Linked DNA regions of Homo sapiens. The protein of the gene in region 2 interacts with the protein of the main gene of each other region in a biochemical or structural test. Each region holds a gene or a part of one and is shown on either strand. Other genes may lie near its edges. The genes, in order: BAZ1B and KANSL1.

Region 1 (3,820 bases), on a different chromosome or scaffold from region 2:
TCCCCTCTGCCTCCCAAAGTGCTGGGATTACAGGCGTGAGCCACCACACCCTTCCACATTTTTCTCATTTTAAGACCAAGGCTGACACCTGGTATGGTTGTTCATGCCAGCACTTTGGGAGGCTGAGGCAGGTGAATTGCTTGAGCCCAGGAATTTGAGGTCAGCCTGGACAACAGTGAATGAAACCCTGTCTCTACAAAAAAAATAGAAAAATTAGCTGGACATGCTGGCGTTTGCCTGTGGTCCCAATTACTTGGGAGGCTGAGGTGGGAGGATCACTTGAGTCCAGGAGGCAAAGGTTGCAGTGAAGCGAGATGGTGCTATTGCACTCCAGCTTGGGTGACAGAGCAAGACCCTGCTTCAAAAAAAAAAAAAAAAAAAAAAAAGGAACAAGGCTGGAGGGGCAGACCCTGTGTGTGACATGTCTTGCTTGCTAGTTTGCTAGTGGCACAAAGAAAGAGCTAGAAGACATCATGACTTTAAGCCTCTTCCGGGAAGTGACATATATTACATCTGCTCACATCTATTGGTCGAAACCAGTCACGGGGTCAAGCTTGATGTTAATGAAGAGGGGAGGTACATTCCTCTTCAGGGACCTTGTAGACAAGCCACATGGCAGTGGGTGGAGATGTAAAAATCCTCTTATGGAAAGGAGGTGAATAGTTAGAAACTAATACAATCTATCATATTTGAAGGTTCAATGAATGTTTTCTGGGAAAAGTTATTTTTGAGATCTAAAGGATGATTAGAATTTAGACGAATAATAGAGGACTGTATATTCTTGGCAGAGAAGGTGTGATGAGTTCGTCGTGATTGTGTGAGTTTGGAGGTTTTTTGTTTTTTTTTGAGACAGATTCTCACTCTGTCATCCAGGGTGGAGTACAGCGGTGTGATCTTGGCTCACTGCAACCTCCGCCTTCCTCATTCAAGCAGTTCTCTGCCTCAGCCTCCCGAGTAGCTGGGATTACAGGCGCCCGCCACCATGCGTGGCTAGTTTTTTAGTAGAGACAGGGTTTCACCATCTTGGCCAGGCTGGTCTTGAACTCCTAACCTCGTGATCCACCCACTTCAGCCTCCCAAAGTGCTGGGATTACAGGCGTGACCCACCATGCCCGGGCTAATCTTCTTTTTTTAGACAGTCTCCCTCTGTTGCTCTCCATCACAGCTCACTGCAACCTCCACCTCCTGGGCTCAAGTGATCCTCCCACCTCAGATCCCTGAGTAGCTGGAACTACAGGCCTGTGCCACCACATTCAACTAATTTTTTTTTAATAGAGATGGGGTTTTGCTATGTTGCCCAGGCTGCTCTTGAACTCCTGGGCTTGAGCGATGTTCGTGCCTGGGCCTCATAAACTGCCACTATGCAGTTTTTTTTTTTTTTTTTGAGACTGAGTTTCACTCTTGTTGCCCAGGCTACAGTGCAATGGCATGATCTCAGCTCACTGCGACCTCCGTCTCCAAGGTTCAAGCAGTTCTCCTGCATCAGCCTCCCGAGTAGCTGGGATTACAGCCGCACGCCACCACGCCTGGCTAATTTTTTGTATTTTTAGTAGAGACGGGGGTTTCACCATGTTGGCCACGCTGGTCTCGAACTCCTGACCTCAGGTGATCCACCTGCCTTGGCCTCCCAAAATGCCAGGATTATAGGCATGAGCCACTGTGCCTGGCCGGCCCCTACTTTTTTTTGTTTTGTTTTTTTCTGGCCCCTGCTTTTTAAAGTAACAACTCTAGGTTGAACATCCCAAATCCATAAATCAGAAATGCTCCAAAATCTGAAAGTTTTTGAGCCCCAACATGATCGTCAAAGGAAGAGCTCATTGGAGCATTTTGGATATTTGGATTTGGGATGCTGAACTAGTAAGTATAATGCAAATACTCCAAAATCTGAAAGAAATTCAAAATCCAAAATACTCCCGGTTCTAAGCATTTTGGATAAGGGATCCTCAACCTGTAATAATAAAAACTTACTGTTCTCTCTTTAAGACATATTTGTTAATGTATTTCTCTTACATTCTCTCTGATGACACAGTGAGTTTTTTTTTTTCTTTTAATAGTTTTTTGTAAAGTCGCTATGTTCAGGCTGGTTTTGAACCCCTGGGCTCAAGATCCCCCCACTTTGTCCTCCCAAATGCTGGGATTGCATGTGTAAGCTACCATGCCTGTTGGAGCTTCTTAAATATGGCTAAATAATGTGTTAGAATGTTATCAAGCTTTTTGAAAGCTTAAATAAGTCCACTTACTGATTCCTCCTCTGTCCTTATTTTACTACCCATCCCTTCCACTCCCCTAGTTCAGTAGACAAAAATAAGACAAATCCGTCTTGGGATAATGTCCTCTGGAAGCCGTTCCGTTGCTCTTCTCTGGGTATAAGTTTGAAAATTTTTCGGTGATTGGATTTACATATCTGTATATGGAAGTCTGACTCAGGTTTTTACTCAAACATTCTATATATTTTGTTTAATCACTTAGATATTAGCACCACCCCTGTAAGGAAAATGGATTTATTACTCAGTTTTAGCAGATCTGGGGAAAGATCCACAATGAGCAAAGGTGCTTATACTATTGCATAAAGTTACTATTTTGGATTACCTGTGGGTTTGTTCTTGTTTGCGTTTTTGCTGATCATAACCTTGGAAAACCAAGCATCTATATTTATTAAACATGCGGCTGGGCGTGGTGGCTCACACCTGTAATCCCATAACTTTGGGAGATTGAGGCAGGAGGACTGTTTGAGCCCAGGAGTTCAAGACCAACCTGGGCAATGTGGTGAGACCCTGACTCTGCAAAGATAAAAAATGTAGGTGGGCATGGTGGTGTGCACCTGTAGTCCTAGCTACTCAGGAGGCTGAGGCCCAGGATTGCTTGACCCCAGGAGGTCAAGGCTACAGTGAGCCATGATCCCACCACTGCACTTCAGCCTGGGTGACAGAGTGAGACCCTGTGTCAAAAATAAATACATAAATAGATAAAAATGAGCTAGATGCTGCAGTGTAAGTCTGTAATCCCAGCTATTCAGGAGGCTAAGGTAGGAGGATCTCTTGAGCTCAGGAGATACAGGCCAGCCTTGTTTCCAAAAAACAAAAATTAGAATATTTGTTTATTTGTTAGATAGTATTGTAGAGGAAACTGTTTAAATACTTTTATTTCAACCACTATAAAATGTGTCACTTGGAATATACAGGTATTGTTCACTAACTTTCTACTTATGTCAGTTGATTTTCTTACATAGCATCTGTTGCTGTGCTTAAAAGTAAATTAGTTACTTGCCGTTTGAATTTGGAAGTGGCTGGCTGATGGTGAATTCCAGTTGGTTTTGTGTGGAAAGTTGCCATATTTACACTACCAACTTGATGTTTTTCTTTCCCTCGTCTCCCTCACGAAGACTGTCTAAACGGCTAGTAAATGATCTTCTGAATCTCAGTATTATTGGAGACATCATAGAGACTGGATAAATATTATATCAAAAGTACTTTCCGGAATACTTCTAAGTATTTTATGAAATTTATTTTTTAAACCAGGGTAGCCAATCTTTTGGCCATATTGGAAGAAGAATTGTCTCGGGCCACACATAAAATACACTAACACTAAAAACAGTTGATCAGCTAAAAAAAAAAAAAATCACACAAAAAACTCATAATGTTTTAAGAAACTTTATGAACTTGTGTTGGGCTGTGTTCAAAGCCGTCCTGGGCCGCAGGTTGGACAAAGGTTGGACAAGCTTGTAAACCCTAAGAAGTAACATGTTTCCAAGGTGGACTGGAGGGCTGTGGGTAAATGGATCATTAATGTATGCTCAAGGTTATTCCAAACTGCCTGTGAG
Region 2 (3,820 bases):
GGCCAGGTGTTTGGACTAACCTGTAGCATTTTATGTTTCTTGCAGATGTTCCCACAAGCCTGCATTTCCAGAGCATGCTGAAATCTCAGTGGCAGAACAAGCCTTTTGACAAAATCAAACCTCCCAAAAAGTTATCGCTTAAGCACAGAGCACCCATGCCGGGCAGTCTGCCAGATTCAGCTCGTAAGGACAGGCACAAATTGGTCAGCTCCTTCCTAACAACAGCCAGTAAGTGTCAGGGAGCCGGGAAGTCCCCCAGAGTATCAGTGACTTTTCATTCCTTTTATATTCTCAAATTTGTAGTTTGCATGCATGTTGGGGTTGGGAGAGGCAGTTGACCGATAAAAAATTCAGCTCACAGTGACTGCTTCTGCTTGTCTTGGATGCTCTCAGATGGACTTCGGGAGCTATTCTAGACACCATGGATCTTGGAGCAAGACCCAAAATGCTCAGTGAACAGCCAGCAATGGCATGGCATTGAGTTCATCTACGGGCAGGTGTCTTCTGTATCCTGGTGACATGTTTCTCTGGTTCTGGGCTCCCTGTGCCTATCCTAGCCATTGTGCAAATTACTAGAAACTTCAGTCCTGAAGGACTGTCCTGCTGCCCTGGGTATACGGCGTTGGCCTAGAGAGAACTCGAGAGCTTGGAACTCGAATAAGAAAATATTTGAGAGGACATATTTCACAGCTCTTTTTCTGTTCCCCTCTTCAGAGCTGTCCCATCACCAAACCCGGCCTGACAGGACCCACAGGCAGCACTTAGACGATGTGGGGGCCGTGCCCATGGTGGAGCGAGTGACAGCGCCAAAAGCAGAGCGCTTGCTCAACCCACCACCACCCGTGCATGACCCAAACCACAGCAAAATGAGATTGCGAGACCATTCATCTGAGAGAAGTGAAGGTAGGGCCAGGCCCATGGCACCTCTACCTGCAACTGCACCTGCTCAGGGCTTTCTGGGGCAGCCTAGGCTTCTCTTAATTACCCCCAGCTTTGTCCTTCACTTTCTAGGAAAGCAGAGTAGAGGGACGCTACTGCTTCTAAATGGAGGTCACTTCTTAACTGCTACAGCAACCTCTGCCCTGCCCCTACTTCCCACAGCTAGTGTGCTTCACCTTTTTATCCTCTAGGCATAGAAAACATTTTTGCCTTTAGTATGTATTGCTGCCATTCCAAGCTTGTGTTAGAAGTAACGCTGGTTAAGATAGCCATGTATTTCTCTCTTTTCTGTTGACTTCTGCAGTGTTGAAGCATCACACAGACATGAGCAGTTCGAGCTACTTGGCAGCCACCCACCATCCTCCACACAGTCCCTTGGTGCGACAGCTCTCCACCTCCTCAGATTCCCCTGCACCCGCCAGCTCTAGCTCACAGGTTACAGCCAGCACATCGGTAAGTACCTGTGTGGGGTTGGCCGGACACCCCCTCTGCAGGTCACAGCTCACTCAAGTGGCTCCAGAGGACAGTGTGAGGGTGGGTTATAAAGCCCAGGGCATTTATAGGATCTCAGCTCATCATGACATATGTATGTATGTCTGTACCATTTTTAAGTCAAAGTCATGGTACTTGACCTTCTGTTGTTTTTCTTGAGTTGTTTTTCATAGCAGAGATGGATTTATGCTGAGCCATCCATAGAAAGCTTGATGCAGGGACAAACTCTTAAGGTGATCTGTGACTATTCAAGATCTGTTGGACTAAGTTTCACACAGGACTCAACAGTTCCGTGGCCCTAATCCTGTTGGCCCAAGAAGTGAACAAGAGAGGAGGGGTGGGTAGAGGGGAGATTCCCATGGGCGTTGGAAGCAGTGTTTGATTTCCTTGGTTTTACTCTCTGGGTGAGTGGAGGTGAAGTACTAAGAATAAACACTAGGCGTGAGGGTACCAGAAGAGAAGGGAAGGGAGAAGGCAGAGTCCATGCTTTTTAGGTATACAGAGCAGAATTACAGATCCAGCAGGCCCCCATGGCAGGACATTTGGCATGCACACACCAGATTTTACGATACCACACTCCATCTGGAAGCAGTTTGCACAGCTATTCCAGACACATTTCCTTTAATTTCATTCTAATATTTTAATTCCTCAAGTGTGCCCTCTTGGAACATACATACCTGTAGCTGCTATGGACCTACTCAAAGGGTCCTTTTTGTATAATAATTACAATGTAATGTAATGGTAAATGTAAAAGTCTGCAACTGTAATGTTTATTGAACACTTACTACATACCAGTGATCAGTGATTTACATGTGTTACATGTTATAATGCCTTTTGAGATGTAGGTTGGTACTGTGGATTTCATTTTATATGCATGAAAACTGTCAAGGCAACTTGTGAGGGTTATAATTATGATTCAAACTCAGGCAGCCTGACTGTAGAGCCAGCTCTTTTACCATTACACTACACAGGCTAAGCCTGGGTGAGGGTATTGCAGAGGCAACTTAGGAAGTTCCTTCAGAGCCTAGATCAGGAAACTTCCAAGCTCATAAAATGGACTCACTAGGCTCCTGTGATCAGGTAGGAATTCACATTGTTCTCTCTTTGCTGTTACAAATCAATCTTTTCCAAATGGTCTCTTTGCTCTTCGACTTTCTTTACCCCCGTAACCCACAAATTTTATCTAAATAGGTGTGTAGTGTCCCTCACATACTCAGTTATCCAGCAGCAAAGGGTTTCAGATAACCAAAGTATTTATAAAAAAGAGTCTAAACTAATTCTGATAGAAAATCTGAACTCAGAGATTCAGGACTTGGTGAGCACTTCAATATTTCTGTGTCTGGAGAATGTTAACTTAGGCCTGGATCACTTGAAATTTTTACCATTTATTGAGTAAAAATTTTGTGTATAGCACTATGCTAACCCCTGAGGCTCTCTCATTGCCAAGTTTTTTCAAAGACTCTGGATTTATGTAAAAGAAGATAGGCCAGGCACAGTGGCGCTCACCTATAATCCCAGCACTTGGGGAGGCGGCTGAGGCGGGTGGATCACTTGAGGTCAGGAGTTCGAGACCATCCTGGCCAATAAGGTGAAACCCTATCCCTACTAAAAATACAAAAATTAACTGGGCGTGGTGGCATGTGCCTATAGTTCCAGCTACTCTGAGGCAGGAGAATCACTTGAACTGGGAAGCGGAGGTTCCAGTGAGCGGAGATCAAGCCATTGCACTCAAGCCTGGGCGTCGCAGCAAGACTTCGTCTCAAAAAAAAAAAAAGAAAGAAGATAGGCCAGATAACAGCAGGCTCTCAGTATCTGCAGTATCTGCAGTGGGGATTGGTTCCAGGACCTCCCATAGATAGCAAAAGCTATTGTTGCTCATGTCCCTAATATAAAATGGCATAGTATTTGCATATAACCTATGTGTATGCTTTAAATCCCATATACTTTAAATCATCTCCAGATTACTGATAATACCTAATGCAATGTAAATGCTATAAAAATAGTATGCTGTATTGTTTAGAGAATAATGAAAAGAAAAATCTGTACCTTTTCAGTACAGACACAATTTTTTTCCCCCAAATATTTTCAATCCACAATTGGTTGAACCCATGGATACAAAGGGCCAGCTCTCCTTGAAATCAAGTAAAGAAGCCAGAGGACACTGGAGAAAGGTAGGGAGGAGAGCGAGTGTTTTTGTCAGTGCTTCCCAAAAGCCAGTAGCTGCATCAGAATCACCTCAGCAGCTTTAAAAAACAAAACCAACCAACCAGACACTTCTAAAGATCTGATTTGTTGCTGGCTGTGATATTGCATGCCTGTAGCTCCAGCTACTCAGGAAGATCTCTTCAGCCCAGGAGATTGAGTCCAGCCTGGACAACATAGTGAGACC

Evidence for each region.
Region 1: the proteins of KANSL1 (region 2) and BAZ1B form a complex in vitro, tested with the Homo sapiens proteins (one study listed by BioGRID).

The regions. Positions count from the first base shown.
Region 1 is NC_000007.14:73,512,098-73,515,917, reverse strand, and holds part of BAZ1B (tyrosine-protein kinase BAZ1B), read left to right. Parts: intron 1-3,820. UniProt on the Homo sapiens protein: Atypical tyrosine-protein kinase that plays a central role in chromatin remodeling and acts as a transcription regulator. Involved in DNA damage response by phosphorylating 'Tyr-142' of histone H2AX (H2AXY142ph).
Region 2 is NC_000017.11:46,036,110-46,039,929, reverse strand, and holds part of KANSL1 (KAT8 regulatory NSL complex subunit 1), read left to right. Parts: intron 1-45; coding exon 46-228; intron 229-714; coding exon 715-903; intron 904-1,243; coding exon 1,244-1,392; intron 1,393-3,820. UniProt on the Homo sapiens protein: Non-catalytic component of the NSL histone acetyltransferase complex, a multiprotein complex that mediates histone H4 acetylation at 'Lys-5'- and 'Lys-8' (H4K5ac and H4K8ac) at transcription start sites and promotes transcription initiation.